Homo sapiens: one gene and its partner. The protein of the gene in region 2 interacts with the protein of the main gene of each other region in a pairwise test. Each region holds a gene or a part of one and is shown on either strand. Other genes may lie near its edges.

The links.
Region 1: the proteins of CABP5 (region 2) and PAX4 interact in a two-hybrid assay, tested with the Homo sapiens proteins (one large-scale study listed by BioGRID).

Annotation. Positions count from the first base shown.
Region 1 is NC_000007.14:127,609,520-127,612,525, forward strand, and holds the end of PAX4 (paired box protein Pax-4), read right to left. Parts: intron 2,482-3,006; coding exon 2,426-2,481; intron 2,158-2,425; coding exon 2,016-2,157; intron 1,688-2,015; coding exon 1,545-1,687; 3' UTR 1,467-1,544; coding exon of another isoform or gene 1,333-1,466; 3' UTR 773-1,332; downstream 1-772.
Region 2 is NC_000019.10:48,031,369-48,034,296, forward strand, and holds part of CABP5 (calcium-binding protein 5), read right to left. Parts: coding exon 2,847-2,928; intron 1-2,846. UniProt on the Homo sapiens protein: Inhibits calcium-dependent inactivation of L-type calcium channel and shifts voltage dependence of activation to more depolarized membrane potentials. Involved in the transmission of light signals.

The DNA of each region.
Region 1 (3,006 bases), on a different chromosome or scaffold from region 2:
CAGAGCACACAACCCCAGCCATGCCTCCCCATCTGCAGCCAGCATCTTCACAGCAGCAGCTCAAGATGGGTTGCCACTACCACCACAACCATGAGGCCTCAGCTGAGACAGCTCCTTTCTGTTCTGCCTAGCAGGACCTCCAGCTTGAAAGTATAGAAGGCAAGGCAGGGGCAAGATGTGCTCTATTACCCTTGAAATTTCATTCTAGAGCTGTGCAGTCCCATAGAACTTTCTGCAATGACTGAAATGCTCGATAGTCCTTACAAGCCACATGTAACTACTGAGCATTTGAAATGTGGCTAATGTGAGTGAAGAACTGCATTCTTCTTTTTTTTTTAATGTGAATTACATTTAAATAGTCACATGTGGTTGGTGGCTACTTATTTAACAGCACAGTTCAGCACAGCACAGTATTTGATAATGAAGAGGCCTCTTGAATGACGTCTTCTGGATCAGTACCTATCCCAGATAGGAGTAAACAATGCCCCCACCTCCCCGCCCGCCGACCAGCATTGCACCATCATTATCCATCGCCTGACTTTCAAAAGGGAAAGAATTTGGAAGGATGAGCCTATCCTCCTTGCTGAATATCCGATTCTTCACCGCCTTTCCCCCATATTCCTCCCTTTCTCCACATCCTGAGACTTCTCAGGAAGGGCCTAGACCTTTATTTGAAGGGACAGAATTGAGAAGGTTTGGAACTTACTGCCAAAAGGACCAAGCAAACATGCCCCTGGAGCATGTATAAATAAAGCACATATAAATGGAAAGCAGAATATGAAAAATGGCATTTCACTCTGTTTGCTGCTATGACAAAAATACATATGCAAATACAAAATACATATGCAAATACAAAATACATATGACAAAATACATATGACAAAAATACATAATTTTCTTAGATTAAGAAGTTACAGTAAATTTTCTTAGATGTGGATATATTATTGTGATTATGTAAGACAAGTTTCTTGTTTTTTGGGGATGCATGCTGGAAGATTTAGGAATAAAATGCCATGATATAATGTCAGTGTGTGTGTGTGTGTGTGTGTGTGCGCGCACGCATGCACGCATACATAATACACATATAGATGCATACATAGAGTAGGTAAATTGATGCATTGACAAATACATTGTTTAGATACATGTATTGCCTACATACATGCATAGATTAGATGGTAGATACATAGATGTAAATAAATGATAGGGCAAATTGTCTATAATTGTTGAATATTAGAGTGGGCATAGGGGTGCTCATAGGGAAAACATGATGGACAACAGAACTACTGCTAATAAAAACAGCTTTTATTACTGCTGAGTGGAGGCCTCTTAAGGCTAGTGTGAGAAGTGGGTGGGTGTTGCTTTACCAGCCCCTCCAATCAGGTGATGCGCCAGAGAGGCATCGAGGCAGGGCCAGGCAACGTCCACACAGGAGGGAGCAATCACAGGAAGGAGGAAGGAGCCACAGTCTGTATGGGCAGGACGGTAAGGACAATGGGCAGGATGGTATTAGATCTTCTCTATGCCATCTCCTTCCCACTCCTGCCTCATTCCAAGCCATACAGTAGTGGGCAGCCAGGCCAGAGCAGGGCCTGAGAGCCACTAAGACTGGCCAGGTGACAGTGGGAGGAAGGGCAAGGAAGGCAAAGCAGTCCTGAGTCCAGGGAATTCGGCTGTGGGGGCAAGTGGCCTGTGGGGACAAATAGAGAGAGCTTGGGGTTATTGCTCCCACCCCACCTCTCAAAGTCACTATGGGAGAGAGGCTGAGACATCAGTTTCCCACCCTGCATATACACACTTGAATCCCAGTCTCACATCCTTTACCTGCTATGGCTGTCAGTGATACCATAGACTCAGGGGTTACTAGTCTCCGTAATTTTGTGGACCATGCAAAGAATGAGGAAAGCTGTATTGAGATTCCTTTGATGACCCCCAATGGAGATCCATGCCCTCCTGGAGGTTGAGTCAGTCGACCCTCCCTACATCCTGCAGGACTGAGGCCTGGCCTGAATTCTTACCCCAGCAGGGCTTGAGACAGGCTTTAGGTGGGGTGTCACTCAGACACCTTTCTGGTGCTGTTGCCCAGCACAGCTGATAGCAGGAGGGACCCAGTGGTTCCAGGGCAGGCAGGGCTGCTGTGGGCACACTGCCAGGGGACTGCTAAAAAAAAAAAGCAAGAGAAGAACCTTAGCTTCCAGTGATGCCTCCTGTAGAGAACGCCGGGACCCCAGAGCTGCCTGCCACCCAAGTAGTATCCTGCACAACTCCAGAGGGCACCATTCACATAGTAGACTTTGGGTTAGTACTTTCTTGACATGAACACTGTGGGGCCCTGGAGAGCCGGAGATCCTGGCTCAGGCCAGAAATGGAAGAGCCCATGAGCCCTTCAGTCTTCCCAGGGCACAGACTCCCCTCTCCTCCCGAGTACCTGTGCAGAGATGATTCCTGGGGCAACCCTTGGTACAGTCAGCCCCTGGGAAGCACCTATAAAATGAGAGTGAATCCACTCAGAAGGAGGAATTGGGGTTAGGGACGGGAGGAGTGTGGTGAGAGGCAGGAAGGTTGGATACAAAGAGGTTCTAGGAAAGTCAGCCACTTCTTGCAGGGGTGTGAAGAGATGGATATTTTAACCCAAAACTGTCCTCTTCCCCAAGACAGGTCCTTGGGAAACTGGAGAAGAATGATTAAATTCCAGTGATGGTACTGGGGACAGTGCAGCCTTAAGATCCGGGACTGTGTGTGCCCAGCATCTAGCACAGGGTCTGGCACTGGGGAGATGCTGAGTAAATATTGGATGGATGGGTGGATGGATGCACAGATTAATGGAAAGATGGATGGATGGATGGATGCATGGGTGCATGGGTGGCTGGATGGATGCATGGGCGGATGCATGGGTGGATGGATGGATGAATGCATGAGCAGATGCATGGATGGATGCATGAATGAATGGGTGGATGGATGGATGGATGGATGGATGGATGGATGGATGGATGGATAAATGGATAGGTA
Region 2 (2,928 bases):
GTCTCTACTAAAAATACAAAAATTAGCTAGGCGTGGTGGCGGGCGCCTGTAATCCCAGCTACTCCACAGGCTGAGGCAGGAGAATTGCTTGAACCCAGGAGGTGGAGGTTGCAGTGAGCCAAGGTTGCACCACTGTAGTGCAGCCTGGGTGACGGAGTGAGACTCCATCTAAAAAACAAAACCCAAAAAACCTGTGATTGTCACTATGAGATTTCATCATCTCAACCATCCTGGAGGGATAAGTGTCACTTTACAGATAAGGAAACTTACGCCAGCGAGGGTCACCAACATACCTGAGGCCACGTGGATAGTGAATGGTGAACCCTGGAAGGAATGCAGGTTGCACCTGACTTTGCTGTGGCTCAAGACGATCTTGCTGCCCACCCGGGTCTTGAGGTCATCCTGACCTTCCCTTGCCTTTGGTTGGCCTGAGGATCATCTCCCACCCCCACCCCACCTTCTCCAGATGTCACTTGATGTCCACTGCACACCTAATCCTGGCTAGATCTAGCAGGTGTCCAACCAGCCTCTACTGTGTTTCCATACTGGGACATACAGCATATATGGTTTAGAGAATGGCCCTTCCTCCTCTCTATCTAGGATGGAGGCCTTGGAAGCTAATACAACTCAACACAGCAAGGTCTGCTGTGATAACTTCCATGGAGAGGAACAGAAAAACTTCTGTAAGACTTCACAGCTGGGAGGAAGACATGAGGGAAGGATGGAGAGAAGCTTCCTGACAAAGGTTGCCTTGATGTGAGTTCCTGAGGGATGGATGAGACTGAAAGATGTGGTAAGTGGACGGAGCATCTGATGCCTAGGAACGGAGGTTGGAGAACATAAAGCAGGCACCAAGTTTGTGCCAGAACTTAAAAGTTCAGAGAATAGCTACAGAAGATACAGGCTGGGTGGGTGGGCGAGGCCAGATGATGGATAGACTTGCATATCAGACAAATAATTTTGGACTTTTTTTTTTTTTTTCTGGAGACGGAGTCTCGCTCTGTCACCCAGGCTGGAGTGCAGTGGGGCGATCTCACTGCAACCTCCGCCTCCCAAGTTCAAGCAATTCTCCTGCCTCAGCCTCCCAAGTAGCTGGGACTACAGGCACATGCCACCACCCCTGGCTAACTTTTTGTATTTCAGTAGAGATGGGTTTCACGGTGTTGCCCAGTCTGGTCTTGAACTCCTGAGCTCAGGCAATCTGCCTGCCTTAGCTTCACAAAGTGCTAGGATTACAGGTGTGAGCCACGCGCCTGGCCTTTTTTTCTTTTTTTCTTTTTTTGAGATGGAGTCTCACTGTTGCCCGGGCTGGAGTGCAGTGGTGTGACCTCGGCTCACTGCAGCCTCCACCTCCTGGGTTCAAGCAATTCTCCTGCCTCAGCCCCCGTATAGCCTGGGACTACAGGCGTGCACTGTCACTCCTAGCTAATTTGTATATTTTTAGTAGAGATGGGGTTTCACCACGTTGGCCCCCCTGGTCTCGAACTCCTGACCTCAGGTGATCCGCCAACCTTGGCTTCCCAAAGTGCTGAAATTACAGGCATGAGCCACTGAGCCCGGCCAGAATTTTGGATTTTTGTCCATAAGCAGCAGATAGGTGCTGAGATCTTTGAACCAAAGAATGTCACAATTAGAACTTGACATGCTTTTTTTTTTTTTTTTTTGGACGGAGTGTTGCTCTGGAGTGCAATGGCGCGATCTCAGCTCACTGCAACCTCCGCCCCCAGCGTTCTAGCAATTCTCCTGTCTCAGCCTCCCAAGTAGCTGGGATTACAGGCACCTGCCACCACTTCCGGCTAATTTTTTTGTATTCGTAGTAGAGACAGGATTTCGCCATGTTGGCCAGGCTGGTCTCAAACTACTAACCTCAGGTGATCCACTCGCCTCGGCCTCCCAAAGTGCTGGGATTACAGGCGTGAGCCACCATGTCCGGCCGACATGCCTTCCTATGCCTCACATAAAAAAGAACCCCACGTCTCATCCATGTAGAACCCCAATCCTTTTCACTTATTCAGTGATCCAATATACTCATGCTGGGCTCAGTGCTAGGATTTGGGGATATAGTGATGATGAAGGAATTGGTCCATGGTCTCAGAAGGAAATAGGCAATAAACTCTAGAGATGCCACGAATCCGTATTACTGCAGAAGCAAGCGGGAGGTATTACTGGGGAGCCAGCAGAGGGACACGGAGCCCAGTAAGAGAGGTGGGAGGTACCTTCCAGGAACATAACTAGGAGTTAGCCAGGGGAGAGGGGAAAGGGTATTCCAGACGGAAGGACAACTTGAGCAAAGACAGGGAAGGAAAATTTAAAAATACAGTGGTGCTTTGTGCATGATTTCTTTTAGTTTTCTCCAAAAGGTGTCATCATCCACCTCATTTTACAGATGGGAAAACTGACCCTTAAAGAGAAAAAGGGAGTAGCATAAGCCACATGCTGAGTCAGCGATGATCCTGAATTTGAAGCCCCTGAACCTGACCCCAGAGCTCCAGCTGCTAGCCAGTCCAGTCTCTTTCTGATGGGACAAGTTCTTCCTAGGATAAAAGGTGCCCTGCAAACTAACAAGGAATGGGCAAGGCGGAAGGGCGTCCTGAGCATGGGAAGGAAAGGGCCTTGGCTGAGGTGTTCCTCGGAGCCACCAGAAGTGAGCGACACCCAGCTCTTTGAAATGAATAGCCTGGGAAGAAAGGGACAGAACAAATGCTTCCAAAACCTGCCACCCGCTTCCATTCTCAAACTTGGAGAGGAGTGAGAAGGAGTGGCCAACTTGGAAAATCTGACAGTGAGTTGGAAGTGGATTCCTGCGGTGGCTGCCCCCGCTCCCCACCACGCCCCGTCAATGTCACCTTCAAAGTCAACTGTGCCGTCTCCATTAACATCAGCCTCCCGGACAACCTCAGAGATCTCCCGGGGGGTGAGCCGCTCCCC